Linked DNA regions of Homo sapiens: region 2 is linked to region 1. Evidence: fine-mapped expression QTL. A gene starts in region 1. The other region holds a variant in brackets. All regions are shown on one strand. Distances are between the middles of the regions.

Region 1 (8,334 bases):
TGGGTGACAGAGCGAGACTCCTCACAAAAAAACAAAAACAAACAAACAAACAAAAACAAAAAAAAAAACCTCTCAGTTGTCCCAATATCATTTATTGAATAGTCAATTTTTTATTTATTTGAAAAGGCAACTTAAAGCATTTCCAGTATCAATTATTTAATTCCAAATGACATGATTAAAGCGCTATTTACTGAGCTTTCAAATGTAGATAATACCATTGGCTCATCTACGAAAGATGAGAATTTGGATCGCATACACCACCTCTCCTCTGCCTCCTCCAATGTTTGATAATTATATCATGTTTTGTTCCTCTACTTAGTGCTTTTCCCACTTCAAATAACTTACTTATACCACTATTTCTTGTTTCAATAGCTCTAATCAGTATCTAGAGTAAAATTAAGTAAGCAGGAGGCTATTGACCTGAGACAGTCTCCATGCTTTGAATTCCTATGAAACAAAATGCAACCTAACTTAGTATGTAAACAAACTGAAACTTAACTTAGGAGTTTCATTTTTATAACAGATAACCAGGTCTTTGCCAATCACAAGCAGCCAAGCTTCAGCTAAGTGCAAGCAGCCAACGGACTGGCTCATGTCTAAATCAAGCAAAACACTTAGCTGCAACAAATCAAACTATTTATGTACTTTACCTTCCTGTTCTGCTTATAAATACTCATTGCTTACAGTTGCAGAGCTCTCGGAACCTCTTCTGGTTCTGAGTACTGCCTGATTCAAGAATCATTCTTTACTCAAATAAACTCCATTAAATTTAAATTGTCTGAGGTTTTTCTTTTAACACTAAATACCCCTCTCAGCAATAGGAAGATGATAGCCCATAGAAGTGAATATATTTTTCTTTTTGTTGTCTCTACTCCATTTTATCCACAACAGGGCCCAACCTAAAAATAATAATAATAACAACAGTAATAGTATGTGGAGATAGACTGTAAGGACTCAGATCAATGTTTTATTATTCTGTGATTCTTAAAGTAAATATACATGAGTCCATACTGATATAAATAACTGACTGAATAAATAAATAAATAGAAAGAAGGGACAACTCTCCTGTCAAAAGAATTCCAATTAATAAATGAAAAAAACTAAGGAAATAGAGAATCACCATTAGAACACCACAGTAACAACTGCTGCAGGCAAGATCCACTGATGAATAATAAAACTGATGGGTGACAGTTTAGGGAGCAACTGGATATTTGCATAGCCTCAAAGTATCTCCCCCAAATATTTATTAGTTACCATGGTAGTGTTAACGTATATCCACAACTTCTTTAATATTCTTCCCTCCAGTGGATGGACTTAATCTACTCAACCCTCACTCCCAGGATGGGCTGCACTTACTGACTCCCTTCCAAAAACTAGGGTTTGGATAGGGAAAAATGGTGACTTTACAGTGCAGAAATTTTCCAGTTGCTCCGCCTTAACCAGGTGACCAAGGTAAACACCACCAGTGATGAGTCATGTTGATATCCCTGTACCTCATGACATGATTCAAGAAGGGCACCTTACCTCTGTGGTAATCTTCCCAAAAGTCCACAACCTTAGTCTTACTCTGAGGAAATATCAGACAAACCCAAATGAAGGGACATGCCACAAAATAGCTGATCAATACTCTTCACAAGTGTCAAAGTCATGAAACACTAGAAAAGGCCAAGAAACTCTCATAGATATGGGAAGAATAAAGAGACATGACAACAAAATTCTGTATGTATGCTGGACTGGATCCTGGAACAGAAAAAGAACACTAATGAAAAAACTGGTGAAATCTGAGCAAAACCTGCAGTTCAGTTAATAGTAACGTACCAGGCTGGGCACAGTGGCTCATGCCAGCACTTTGGGAGGCTGAGGCAGGGGGATCACGAGATCAGGAGTTGGAAACCAGCCTGTCCAATATGGTGAAACCCCGTCTCTACTAAAAAATACAAAAAATTAGCTGAGCGTGGTGGCACACGCCTGTAGTCCCAGCTACTTGGGAGACTGAGGCAGAAGAATCGCTTGAACCTGGGAGCCGGAGGTCGCAGTGAGCCAAGATTGCGCCACTGCACTCCGGCCTGGGTAACAGAGTGAGACTCCAGCTCAAAAAAAAAAAAAAAAGTAATGTACCAATGTTAATGTATTGGTTTTTATCATTATCATACTTATGTAAGATTTTCACATTAGGTAAAGCTGGATGAGGGGTATTCAGAAACCTTGTACTATCTTTACAAGTCTTCTATAAATCTAAAACATTTCCAAATATAAAAAGCTTTTTAAAATAAGTGATTGATCTACCTTTGAAATGAAACCTTAAATTACCACGCTGAATTAGCTCTTGGACACTTTAAAATTATGATTACTGGAGAAAAACAAAAATGTAGCTGGGCATGGTGGCTCATGCCTGTAATCCCAGCAGTTTGGGAGGCCGAGGTGGGAGGATCACTTGAGCCCAGGAATTCAAGACCAGACTGGGAAGCATGGTGAAACCCCACCTCGACAAAAAACAAAAATTAGCTGGGTGTGGTGACATACACCTGTAGTCCCTGCTACTCAGGAGGCCAAGGTGGGAGAATTGCTTGAGCTTGGGGGGCAGAGGTTGCAGTGAGCCAAAATTGAACCACTGCACTTCAGTCTGAGCGAGAGTGAGATCATGTCTCAAAAAAAACAAGGTGGGCTGTGGTGGCTCACATTTGTAATCCCAGCACTTTGGAAGGCCAAAATGGGTGGATCACCTGAGGTCAGGAGTTCAAGACCAGGCTGGCCAACATAGTGAAAGCCCATCTCTACCAAAAACACACAAAAAATTAGCTGGGCGTGGTGGTGGGCACCTGTAATCCCAGCTACTTGGGAGGCTGAGGCAGAGAGAATTGCTTGAACCCAGGAGGCAGAGGTTGCAGTGAGCTGCAATTGTGCTACTGCACTCCAGCCTGGGCAACAGAACAAGACTCCATCTCAAAAAAAAAAAAAGTTTAGTTTCAGTGGTTGTTGAACAATTAGTTTACTCTGCAAGTAGGTAATGATAACATCATTTTTCATTCCATTTTGCATGCTCTTCTCCATGTAGGGGTTTACCTCGTATCTCTGTATTCTGATAGCCTGGAGTTGTTTTCCTTATTGATACAAATGAAAAGTGGAATCTTTATATGTTTTCCAATTTATTAAATTAGTAATGTTAAAAATAATTTTAACAAAGTTAAATGGAATTATTTTAAAATTCTGTTTCTTTGCAGTAAATGTAATCCCAATATAAGACAATATGACTCACATATTTGTGAAAACGAATAGGGCCAATCGTTTCCATTATCACCAAAATTATCTATAGTGAGGCCTCTCCATCTTCTACCAGTCCCTCTTTTTTTTCACTCACTCAAAATATATGTATCGATGGTCAAATGTGTCCCAGACATTGTGCAAATCTCTGACAAAGGTAACACAAGAAAATGTGTACTCTGAGAACTTCTTATTCTGCCCCAGTTTAGGAGATTCATGCAACTGCCAAGCAACAATAATAAGAGCTAGCAGTTATTGGAGTACCTCATTCCTCACAACTCGTCATAAGGCAGGTGTTATCATTAGATATTCCCCATGTGTATGCAGGATGAGGAAATAGGTTCAGAGAGGTCAAGTGGCTCACCCAAGGGGCACAGCTAAGTGAAAGGCACTGCAGGCATCTCAAACTACCCCCTTCCCACAAGACTCCACTGCAGAGCAGGACAGTCACCCTGACACCAGCCCAATGGGTTCATCTTGCCCATTACCCAGATGGGGCTAATTTATCAAGACAAGGGAATTGCAATAGAGAAAGAGTTTAATACACATAGAGCCAGCTAAACAGGAGACCAGAGTTTTATTATTACTCAAATTAGCCTCCCAAAATTCGGAGGCAGAGGCTAGGGGACTTTGTGGGTTTTTTTGTTTTTGTTTTTGTTTTTCTTTTGAGAGGGAGTCTTGCTATGTCACCCAGGCTGGAGTGCAGTGGCATGATCTCGGCTCACTGCAACCTCTGCCTCCCGGATTCAAGCAATTCTCCTGACTCAGCCCCCCGAGTAACTGGGATTACAGGCACATGCCACCATGCCCGGCTAATTTTTGCATTTTTAGTAGAGACAGGGTTTCACCATGTGGGCCAGAGTGGTCTTGAACTCCTGACCTCAAGTGATCCACCCACCTCAGCCTCCCAAAGTGCTGGGATTACAGGCGTGAGCCACCATGCCCGCCGGCTAGAGTTTTTTAATGATAGTTTGATGGGCAAGGGGCTAGAGAATGGGTGCTGCTAATTGGTTGGGGATGCAATCACAGGGGTGTGGAAAACCGTCCTCAGTGCACCGAGTTGCATTTGGATGCGGGCCACAGAGGAGTCACTGGTCCAGGTGGAGTCATCCTGTCATTAGAAATGGAAAAGTCTGAGAAGGTATCTTCAAAGGCCAGTCTTAGGTTCTACAAAAGTGGTTATTTACAGGAATAATTGGGGAAGTTGCAGAGCTTGTGACCTCTGGAACAATGTCTGGTAATTGTTAATGCCTACATCTTAGCAGAATTCAGGCCCCTCTCATAATCCTAAACTTGTGGACTTTTATTAGTTTTATAAAACTGGTTTAGTTTGGGGAAGGGCTATTATCATTTAAACTATAAACTAAATTTCTCCCTATATTAGCTCGTCCCATGCTCAGGAATGACCAAGGGCAGTTTGGAGGTTAAAGGCACGATGGAGTTGGTGAGTTCAGATCTGTTTCACCTTCGTAATTTTCTCACTGTTAAAATTTTTGCAAAGGCGATTGCAGCGCCCCTTGTCCACACCTGCGCGCTCCCCAAGGGGTCCCTACCCACCCCGCCCCTGGCTGGGGGCCGTAGGCTGGCCCTGCCCCGCTGCGCCGGAGGTGGACCTCTACCAGGGCAGTTTCTCTCTGAGGCTGCGCGCTAAGGCGGTGGGCGGTCCCAGGCAGGCCCAGAAGCTGGGCAGCCTCTGCCGGGTTCCGGGAAAAGGAGCTCCTGCTGCCACTGCTCTTCCGGAGCCTGCAGCATGGGGCCCCTGCCGCGCACCGTGGAGCTCTTCTATGACGTGCTGTCCCCCTACTCCTGGCTGGGCTTCGAGGTGACGCTGGGAGGGGTCGCCTCGGCAGTGTCTGGGGAGTGAGGGCGGAGGGAAGAGTGAGCGCAGGGCTCCGGGACAGAGGTCTCGTGTAACTCCTGGCGCCGCCCAAGGGGTTAAGGCAAGCAGGGAGAGCTCCGGGGCTGAAGGTCACTTTGTGCTTTTAAACGGAATAGAGTCGCTGGCTCCAACCCGAGCCTTTATATCCCGACTGCAGTTTCCCACGGTGGTGGAAAGAGGGGCGGCTCCAAACATTCAGGGAGAAATGCAGAACACGGCCACCTCTTAGCCCAACGATGGCAGTTTTGGGGAAAACTGGCCACAGGAGCGAAGATCCTGGAATAGATTTCTAGTAGTGAGGAGAGTTTTGCCAATTTCAAACCAAACAATGTAGGGTGTCCGCATAACCCCTGCTCTGCACTTAGCGCCTCCCTTCCCTTTCCCTCGGCTCTTTCACTTTTCCATCTTGCACACTGGCAATCGTTCTTGACCTCTGCCCGCAGATCCTGTGCCGGTATCAGAATATCTGGAACATCAACCTGCAGTTGCGGCCCAGCCTCATAACAGGGATCATGAAAGACAGTGGTAGGAAGGGAGGGTCGGGGCAGGGGTGATCTCAGTGGCCCAAGAGAGCCGACCCCAGCGGGTCCTTATATTGGCACTGGCAGCCAGAAAGCTGCCCTCTGCCCCGTCTCTACTAAAAATACAAAATTAGCCGGGCGTGGTAGTGCATGCCTGTATACCACAGCTACTCGGGAGGCTGAGGCGGGAGAATCGCTTGAACCCAGGAGGCGGAGGTTGCGGTGAGCTGAGATCGCACCATTGCACTCCAGCCTGGGCAACAAGAGCGAAACAACAAGAGAAAAAAAAGGAAGCTGCCCTCTGCCCAAAACCCACGTCGAGGTCCCCAAACCTGGGACCCTTAGGTCTTTTCTCACTTAGCGTGCCCAACCTTCTCCTGGCAGGAAACAAGCCTCCAGGTCTGCTTCCCCGCAAAGGACTATACATGGCAAATGACTTAAAGCTCCTGAGACACCATCTCCAGATTCCCATCCACTTCCCCAAGGATTTCTTGTCTGTGATGCTTGAAAAAGGTGAAGAGAGTGGGATGTAGACAGGGTATCCAGTGAAAAACACAGAAGTCGGAGATTGAGGGATTGATAGGATGGAGGGGCTGCGGGAGACTAAAGCAAGTGAAGCCTGCCTTGGGAAACCTCAGGATCAGCCTTGAGCGAGCTGAAGGTTGCCGGGCATGAAAGGGAAGAAGAGCAGGCAAATAGGTCATGGGAACCTTGGGTGAGAGGCTGAGGGCGGAGGAGCTCTGGGGGATGTCAGAAGCAAGGAAGAGCTAGTCCTCCACCAGGAAAGCAGCAAGAGGAGCCCTGCCTCTGGGTGCCTCTGCCCCACAGGAAGTTTGTCTGCCATGCGTTTCCTCACCGCCGTGAACTTGGAGCATCCAGAGATGCTGGAGAAAGCGTCCCGGGAGCTGTGGATGCGCGTCTGGTCAAGGGTGAGTGTGGGGCTCTGGGAATCCTCTGGGAGGACCTTGGATGACTTTCTGACCTTCCCCAGGCACGTTTTCAGGGTCATGATCCTGCCCCCGCCCGGGGGATCTACTGTCCTCCCAGTCACACCCCTCTCCCCGCACCGCCTTCCTGCTGTCTTCTCTTCTTCCCAGAATGAAGACATCACCGAGCCGCAGAGCATCCTGGCGGTGAGTGTCCTGGCTCCACCCCAACTGCACTCATAGAGAATCTGAGAACAGTTGGCGTTTGGGGGTAAAGAAGACAATAGGTCTCTTATTGCATGGAAAAGGTTATAATTACTGGGGAAGAAAGGATGTCTGTGATTCAGGGCACAAACTACTGAAAAGTTGGAACTAAGGATCCTCAAAAGGATATCTCAAGGTTGAAAGGGGAAGTGCAAAAGGGACAATATATGGGAAGAATTTATTTGCTGAAAGATGTCAGTGAGAGAAAGATGCTCAGTGTTGGAACCCCTGGATGGGGAGGGATATAGTATTCACAAGTCTCCACAAACTCCAACACAAACCTCACCAACACATCCAGAGTGGAAGGCAGGAGACTTGTTCCAAGAGGCTTTAAAAAGACGAAAAGAGATAACTAATGCCAGGGTTATATAGGAGCCTGAGTGAGAACAAATGGAAATAGCTCAAAACATTGACCAGTGAGCCATGGATGGGGGTATAAAAGTAAGTTTGTCTTCAGGATTAAATTAGGAAATTCAAAACAGTATTATTCCTCTGGTTTACAAAAAAAAATAGTTGAGACCTATTCAAATTTAATATATAAAGTGGCAAATCACACAAAAGTTAAACGTATAAGGAATGGCAAATATATCTTCTACAGTCTATACTCCTGCAAAGTACATGTGTAATTTTTAGCTTGCTTTTTTACTTCATATTTAATCATTTTCCATGCTTTTTTTTTTTTTTTTTTTTTTTTTGAGACACGGTCTGGCTCTGTCGCCCAGGCTGGAGTGCAGTGGTGTGACCTCGACCCACTGTACCCTTTGCCTCCTGGACTCAAGCAATCTTCCCACCTCAGTCTCCTGAGTAGCTGGGACTACAGGCACACACTACCATGTCTGGCTAACTTTTTTATTTTTTGTAGAGAAGGGGTTTCACTGTGTTGCCCAGGCTGGTCTCAAACTCCTGTGCTCAAGAGATCTGTCTGCCTCCACCTCCCAAAGTGCTGTGTTTACAGGAATGAGCCACTGTGCCCAGCCTCCATGGAATTCTTAACTCTGAAAGTATAGTTCTTTGTTTCTATAGAGGTTCCACTGAGTGGACTTATTTTTGTTTTGCTTAACCATTTTTCTGTGGTTAAACATTTTGTGTAGGACATAATTCTCTAATTTAACCAAGTCAAAGATAGTGTCTCATTAGGACAGGCTACATGAATTCCTGGGTCCCACTTCTGATCTAGGAAGTCAAGTTGCAGTGGTTGTCAATCTTGGCTGTGAATTAAAATCACCTGGAGCACCTTGGCGCTAACCCTTTCCCCTGGAATTGTGATGTAATTGTTCTTGTTCTTTTTTTTCTTTCTTTCTTTTTTTTTTTTTTTTTTTTTTTTTTGAGACAGTGTCTTGCTTTGTCACCCAGGCTGGGGTGCAGTGGCATGATCATGGCTCACTGCAGACTCAACCTCTTGGGCTCAAGTGATCTCGCATCTCAGCCTTACGAGTAGCTGGGACTTCAAGCATGTGCCACCATGCCTAATTTTTTAAAAATT
Region 2 (8,334 bases), 35 kb before region 1:
GGGCAGGAAGCAGAAAGAGAAAAGGAAGAGGCCAGAGTAAGTAAGCGTCTGTTTTGCTCAGCTCCTGACTCTGTGGCAATGCTAGCGGCACCTGTGCCTCTGGTTTTACCAGTTCTGGGTTACCTTGAAGTAAATAGTGGGGCAAGAGCGGGTTACTTGGGGCAGGCTGCTGGAGAAGAGGAAAAACATTATTCTCCATTGTCATTGTTCAGGATGGTTCCAGCAGCATTGTCTCAAAGAGCTGTTCACAAAACATTGGACACCCTCTCCCCAGATATCTTAGAGCTTGAACGTTAGGAATCTGAAGTTGTCTTTTATTAGGTAAGTTTTAAATCATGATTATTGAGGAAAATGAAAAAAGAATGCTGTGGATCATACCAAGCTTAGGTAGCCCCCAAATGAAAATATGAGGTCAGTAGCAAAGTCTAGTTCTGAGCTCCAGCGCTCTCAAGCACACATTTCAGAGAGAGTTCCTTACATCCATAAACTGCAAAAACCACACACACACACGGCATACACACAGACACATGGCATACACACACACACACACACACACACACACACAGATTCCTTTATAGCTCAGACAGCTTGGGACTTATTTACCTGAAAAGTAAAATATTAATAAAACACACATTTTTGATAGTTTTCTTAAGCTATAGTTATTTATATGACTATTTCAGGCGGTATTTGTTATAGTAAGACAAATTAGATATTGAAGTTTTATTCCAGTCCCTAGAATAGAGAAATATACATTTTCTTCCAAGTTATATATATTGATAAAAGGGTCATGTACCCACTAAGGGTTCTCTGATGCATTACAGAGTTAGAGAGAAAATTGATTTAAAGTTGCCATTATATTAACATGAACCATGTCAAGACCACAAAGTGGATAACTCCATACTTACTATGAAGAAATATCATCTCATTGCTAGCAAGAGCCTAAGGCAGCACATAGCTAACAAAAGCTCCAAGGATGATAACATCCTTATCGATGCACATGTTGGCCTGCCTTCAACGAGATAAAATTCTCTCCAATTCTCTTTCTTCTGTATGTAAAACCCAAGTAAGCACTCAGAAAGACCCAGAATACCTAGTCTTCAAGTTGTCTGGCTTTAGACAGCAATCAGAAGTCCTAAATGAAGACAATAATCGACTCTGCTGGACAAAAGTCTGTAACCAAATGCAAAGCCCGGCTTGCTGTGGTCTCAATATTATTACAGGTTTTCACCTTGCAAACTCTACATCATCTCCCTCGCCCCACAGCCCTGCGGGATGTTGAAAGTGATAGAGTGAAGGATTCCTTTACCCACAAAGTCACTCTGAATATTCATCTAGCATGTGGAGCAGGTAAGGGGACTTTGGTTAGCAATGGATTCCAGTCTGGCAGGCCCAGCCCAGAGGCAGGGTATCTGGCTTCTTTCCTCATACCTGGTCGAGTCCTTGCAAATAAAGGCTAGACTGGCAGCCATGGCCAGTCTAAGGGCTATGACTTTATGGGCACCAGATTGTCCCACAATCCAGTATCATCTTCCCCTTCCAACTACTTCGGTGTCTGCTAAAATTCCACTGTGGTTCTGGCTTTTCTTTGCTTTTATTCTACAGGAAATCTGTTATTCTCTCAGGCATTCTTTACTTGGGGCAGCAGGGAAGAAACATCTATGTAATAAAAAGAAAAGAAACTATAAGTCCAACCAGTCTAAAATGTCTTGTGCTGGGGGAGGGGAGCAGAAACCAAGGGCTAACTAATTATGTCTTGTTGGAGACAGGGCAACTTGTGCATTAGGAAAGATCATGGAAGGAAAGAAAAAAAAGACACCGAGAGAGGAAGCCTTCCCATCTGTCTTACGTTTTCTCCCTCTCCTCTGGAGACAAGGAATATATATATAGTTTTCTTTTTTTTTTTTTTTTGAGACGGAGTCTCGCTCTGTCGCCCAGGCTGGAGTGCAGTGGTGCCATCTTGGCTCACTGCAACCTCCGACTCCCTGGTTTAAGCGATTCTCCTGCCTCAGCCTCCTGAGTAGCTGGGATTACAGGCATGTGCCACCACACCCAGCTAATTTTTTTATTTTTAGTAGAGATGGGGTTTCACCATGTTGGCCAAGATGGTCTTGATCTCCTGACCTTGTGATCTGCCCGCCTCAGCCTCCCAAAGTGCTGGGATTACAGGCATAAGCCACCGCACCCAGCCAAGAAAAATCTTTAGAAGAGAGGTAAGAGGAGGAAATTTCTTATGTACTCAGAAAGATTTGTTTGGGGGAGAAAGAGGAGGACAGAACGGCTAAAAAGCCAGTCTGTAATGTTTGAAGGCTGGGGGAACTCTCTGTACCCTTTTCTAAATGGGGGAAGCGTTGCCTAAAATAGGAGAGGCAAAACTTTCAGGGAAATGCTCAAATCAAGTGTATGCTGGGAAGAGGTAACATGTTACACTGCTACAAGTTTCTGTTGACAGGAGGAAGATGGAAGCATTTTGGAGCCTGTGACATGGCCCAGGAAGGGCAGGCCTGGGCGGAAAATGGGAGCAGACAGCAGAAAATGGGTGGTGTGAAGGGCTGGGGCAGTGGGAACCTAAAGGGGAAGATGTGGAGGTGTTGAGTGCTGAGTTAATCTTGGCCACTCTCAGTTGGGAGAAGCTCTTAACTGACAATTCTGCCTAGGCCTGTGGGGATTACCCTGTAAGCAGCAAAACAAAGTTTTCCAAGAGCTTTGAAGAGGAGCATTTCTGGGTTGGACTCTTCCCTCCCAGTGTGGTATTGCAAAGGTGCTCTGTGTCTGTGGCGCTAGCCCATCAAACAACGTCAGTAGGAAGAATACAGATTTGTAAAAAATTTTCCTGGTTTGTCTCTCATTTGGTTTTTCTTATTTTTTTTAGCAAAGTGTCTTATGAATGTTCTACCCTCTTTCAGTTGCATCAAGAAGAAAATAAGAGAAAAGTGGTTTTGAAGATAGCCCAAGAAAGAAAAGTACCAGCCACCCCCTAGGTTTAGTATGGCAGCAGTAGCAGGAGGGGATCCAAGGCAGGGTGGAGCATTAACAGAAAAACCTGCATCCCCTCAACTTCCACACCCCCGCCCGTGCAGTTCCCAGAGTCGTGAGACTGGGTTTGGGTCCTGGCTCTGCCACTTACTGGTGTGCAAATGGGCATGTTATTGCATCTCTCTGAACCTCAGTGTCCACATCTGTAAAATGGGAACAATAATGGGAAATACCAGCCTCCTAGGGTTATCTCATCCTAAGAGAAGAATGGGGTAAAGTGTTTAGCACACAGCATCTGACCCAGAGTAAGCCATCAATAGATGTTAGCTGTTAGTATTCCAAAGGGAAGTGGAGTGACACTGAGAGGCATCTAGAATGAGGATATTTAAAGCAGGCCAGATATGAAAAGGACAGACCAGACTGGGCCAGATGCACACAGAAGGCTTAGCCTTTATAGTCCCACAGGCTTGGTGGCAGAACATGGCCATGGATCCAGTAGTTCAGTCATCCAAGTGGCAGGTGAAAAGTGTAGGGTGGCCTTAAGAATTGGATTCCTGTTCACTTCCTGACAATGTCAGAAATGAAAGACATCTAGTATTCCACAGTTTAGCTGCCCGACAGTTATCTGAGTGTAGATTTGAACCTAACAGGCACTAGGTTAGGGGTCAGCAAACTTTTTCTGTAAAGGACCAGAGAGTAAATATTTTAGGATTTGTGGGCCACATGCAGTCCCTTCCAGAAGAATTCAACTCTTCTGTTGCAGCACAAAAGCCACCATGGTGATTCAAAAAATAAATAAATGGACATGGGTGTGCTCCAGCAAAATTTTGTTTATGGACACTGACATTTGAATATCATATAATTTTCACGTGTCATGAAATATTATTCTTCTTTTAATGTTTTCAACCATTAAAAATGCATTTTTAATAAATGCCTCTTGCATTTTTAAATGGTTAAAAAATTAATATTTCATGATGTGACATTTTGTTGGAGCACAGCCATGTCCATTCTTTCCCAGCTGTGCACTCTTGGAGGGTGAAATTTTTGCTTAGTTGATCTCGTGGGCCATACAAAACAAAAAGAATCAGTGGGTCAGATTTGCCCCCAGGCTGCAGTTGCAGACCCTTCACTCAGGCATGTTCTCCTACCCCTGAAGGCACAGCATTCCCCAGGACCCAGTCACACTTCATTGCAAAACCAGGGATACTTATTGTGGCAACTTTTGCCATGTTATTTTTTCTTTCTTTTTTTTTTTTTATTATACCTTAAGTTCTGGAATACATGTGCAGAATGTGCAGGTTTGTTACATGGGTATACATGTGCCATGGTGGTTTGCTGCACCCATCAACACATCGTCTACATTAGGTATTTCTCCTTATGCTATCCCTCCACCAGCCCCCCACCCCGCAACAGGCCCCAGTGTGTGATGTTCTCCTCCCTGTGTCCATGTGTTCTCACTGTTCAACTTCCACTTATGAGTGAGAACATGCGGTGTTTGGTTTTCCGTTCCTGTGTTAGTTTGCTGAGAATGATGGTTTCCAGCTTCATCCATGTCCCTGCAAAGGACATGAACTCATCCTTTTTTATGAATTTTTGCCATGTTTTGAACGTGGCAACTTCCCCAATATTTTTGCCACTTTCAATTTCTCCAGCTTTTCTCTGTCCCTGTGCAATCTTTAAAATAGAGTCCACTAGCTCTTTGTAAAAAAATAAAATAAAAAAATAAACAGAAAGCTAATGTTCTAGTCCCCTGTCTCCCACCTGCTAAGGATAGACACGGAGCCCAAATTTTGTTTCTCCTTAAGGCTTTGAAAGCTATTGCCCTGAAGCTACTCACTTGATAACAATGAGTTTGAAATAGTCATGCCTCTACAAACCATCTCTGTTGAGGTTGAACACTAGGCTTTCTGAGTGCTTTCTCCTTGTGAATTTGATCCAGCAGGGCAATGTTTGTATTTTTGTGTTCTTTTAGATGACTAAGCAACAGGCTGGTTTATTGAATAATGATGGGAAATGTGGTGTATAGAAAGAATCTACATTCGGTGTCAAAGATCTAGACTTCAGTCTCCATTCTGTGTGATCTTGGGAAAGTCACTAAACCTTTCTGAGCCTCAGTCTCCCCATCTGGAAAGCAGAAATAATCATAACATCCGCTACACATGGTTGCTATGAGACTCAAATAAAATATGTCTATAATAAATTGTAAACCAC[G/C]ATATGAAGATAAGTGCATTCATTCATTCAACAAAAATGTATTTCTTAATGCATTTTTAGTAAATAAAGATCAACTCAACAAAAATTTTACCCTCCAAGAGTACACAGGCTAGAAAAGAATACTGGATTAAATTATAATGTGAAAAATTCCTGAGTAGTCATCTATGTACTGTGGAGTCAGGAATGTACCCTAAACCTCAAATGTGCACAATTAAAACGCCTATCCTCTAAAAACAATTTTTTAATCCTGATCTTCTTTCCCTAGTTCCTTCACCGTGGGGAGCAGATAACTCAGGACAAAATCCTTTTCTCTCGGTCTTACTGAGCCATTTAGGAGAAATCAGGGCTGAGAGAAAAAGAAATTTTCCACTGAGCTTCCTCAGAGATTCCCATCAGAGCCTGAGGATGGAAAACAGAGAAGGGTCCCATTACATCTAGCCCTCCCGAGGGAAAGCTGCTGTTTGCATTTCCTGCCTACAGCTCTCGGGACTGCAAATAAATCAGTGGTTTATTCAAACCAGTAGCTGGAGAGTAGATTATGGCTGGCGGCCCTGAGTGCAGCTGAGACCATGAGTGATGGAAATGCTTGGCAGGGAGGGAGTGGCAATGTGACCTGCGGAAAACACCAAGACCCCATAGGCCCGTTCTTCCCTCATCTCACTGCTCAGTGGAATAGCACCTGACACTCACACTCTACTCATAAGAGTTAACTAAGATTTGTTAAGATTTATGTGAGATTTATCTTAACATAATAAAAATTAAATATCTCCAAATACTACAAGAAATGGTCTTAACCTCTTTGTTATCTAATCAAATTGTTAAGTGATTCAAACACCTTTGCCTAATATTTTATCTTTCATGAGTTATTTCACTAAGTTTTGTGTCTATATTCTAATTTACGTTTTTGGCACTGATGGCATTAATTGTACCCAATGGCAGAATTTTTTTTTGAAGGCTAAATAACTAAAAAACATGCCTAGTAAGTCCTGATCTGAATAAGTTAATAATATTTTAAAAAGTCAAACCTGTGGCCTGAGTCTCCATTGCCTCTGATCCCCTTAAGGGTGGGGCACTGTTGGCCACTCTCTCTGTTTTAAAGATCTTCACCCTTGACTTCCATATCTATTCAGCTGCCTGAGTTTTCTTCTATTTCCTTATCCACCAAGTACCCTTCAAACATACAACTACTCACAATTTGTACCCTTTATCTATTGCCACCACTAAGGTGACCAACCACTCAGATTTTATAAACTGAAAGTTCCACAACCCAGAAAACCTCTCTGTCCTGGATAACCTGGGACAGTTGGTCACCCTAAGCTCCACCCAAATGACTGAGGCTAAATTCAGGTAACAAGTATTACCTTTCAACTCAGCTATGATATTCACACCAATTCCATAACTTTGTGAACAAGAAACCTATACACATTCACTTGAACCGCACATACACACACACACACTCTTATACTCTTTCACACACACCTCATGCACACACTCACATATACTCCCATTCACACACACCACATACATTCTCACACACCACATACATTCACACACACACCCCACACACTCACATTCACACACACCAACACACACATTCACACACACCAACACACTCACATTCACACACACACCAACACACACATTCACACACATCACACACTCACATTCACACACACCAACACACACATTCACACACACCACACTCACATTCACACACAACACACACATTCACACCCACCAACACACACATTCATTCACACACACCAACACACACTCACATTCACACACACCAACACACACATTCACATACACACACCAACACACACTCACATTCACACACACACCAACACACATTCACATACACACACCAACACACTCACATTCACACACACCATACACACGCACCAACACACATTCACACACACCACCACACACATTCACACACACACCAACATACACTCACATTCACACACACCAACACACACATTCATACACACCACACTCACATTCACACACACCACCCCACACTCACATTCACACAAACACCACCACACACCATCTCACACGCACACCACCACACACATTCACACACACCACACATTGACAAACACAACACATATTCACACACACACCACCACACACATTCACATTCACACACACACACCAACACACACTCACATTCACACACACCACACACATTCACACACCACACATTCACACACCACACATTCACACACACCAACACACTCACACACACACCACACACATTCACACACACACACACACCACCACACACATTCACACACACACCCCACCTGCTTAAAATCCTCCAAAGGCTTCTCATTATGCAAAAACCTTCTGACTGGCCTGCAAAGCCCTTCACACTGCATCTCAGGACTACCTTTTCTGGCAGCTCTTGATGCTTCATTCTATTCACTTCACTACGTACAATCACTGAAAGGGCCTGATGGTTAGGTTCTACTTACAATTTTAATTTTGGAAAATTTAAAACATATACAAAAGCAGGTAATGGTACATCCCCTATGTAACCACTACTCAACCATTAACATAGTGCCAGTACACACTGTTGAAGGCTTTTGATGAGGTTTATTATATAATTCAAATATTTCTAGTACCTTTAGCCTAAAAGATTTTGTGGGTTCTTTTCATTCCAGTTAAATTTTTAGTACCTATTAAAATTAATTGGGTTTCAAGATTCATCTTTGAAATCCACACTATCTGAAATATACCAAAATATACATCATTCTTCTGGTATGTGTTTCCTCTAATTCAACTTTTTTCCCTTCTATTTTTAATTGACATGTAATAATAGAACATATCTAAGAGTGGTATTTCTATACATGTATACAATGTGTAATTATCAAATTAGGGTAATTAGCATATCCATCAACTCAAAAGTGTATCATTTCTTTATGTTGGAAACATTAAAAGGCTCTCTTCTAGCTTTCGAAAATATGCAGTTACTGTTAACTATATTCACCCAATGCTATAAAGCACTAGAACTTATTCCTATCTAGCTGTGATTCATCTGTTAGCCAACCTCTCCTAATCCTCTCCCCTAACCCTTCCTAGCCTCTAATAAACACAATTCTACTCTACTTTTATTAACTCAACATTTTTAGCTCCTAC

The links.
Region 2: its variant is fine-mapped to the expression of GSTK1 in whole blood (INTERVAL, PIP above 0.99).

Annotation. Positions count from the first base shown.
Region 1 is chr7:143,258,503-143,266,836 of GRCh38, forward strand. GSTK1 (glutathione S-transferase kappa 1) reads left to right here and starts at 4,939. Exons shown (of 8, transcript NM_015917.3): 1 at 4,939-5,083; 2 at 5,584-5,665; 3 at 6,046-6,174; 4 at 6,490-6,590; 5 at 6,759-6,794. The coding sequence starts at 5,012. The region is part of intron 2 of TMEM139-AS1 (TMEM139 antisense RNA 1); the gene reads right to left. LOC105375546 (a long non-coding RNA gene) reads left to right here. Exons shown (of 3, transcript XR_007060569.1): 3 at 4,646-4,705. RefSeq lists a silencer at 4,757-4,826 and enhancers at 4,854-5,148, 4,967-5,186.
Region 2 is chr7:143,223,888-143,232,221 of GRCh38, forward strand. No RefSeq gene overlaps it. Among named protein-coding and RNA genes, the nearest start is that of TAS2R40, 6.0 kb to the left of the region's middle. The variant G/C (reference allele first, on the strand shown) is at 5,185.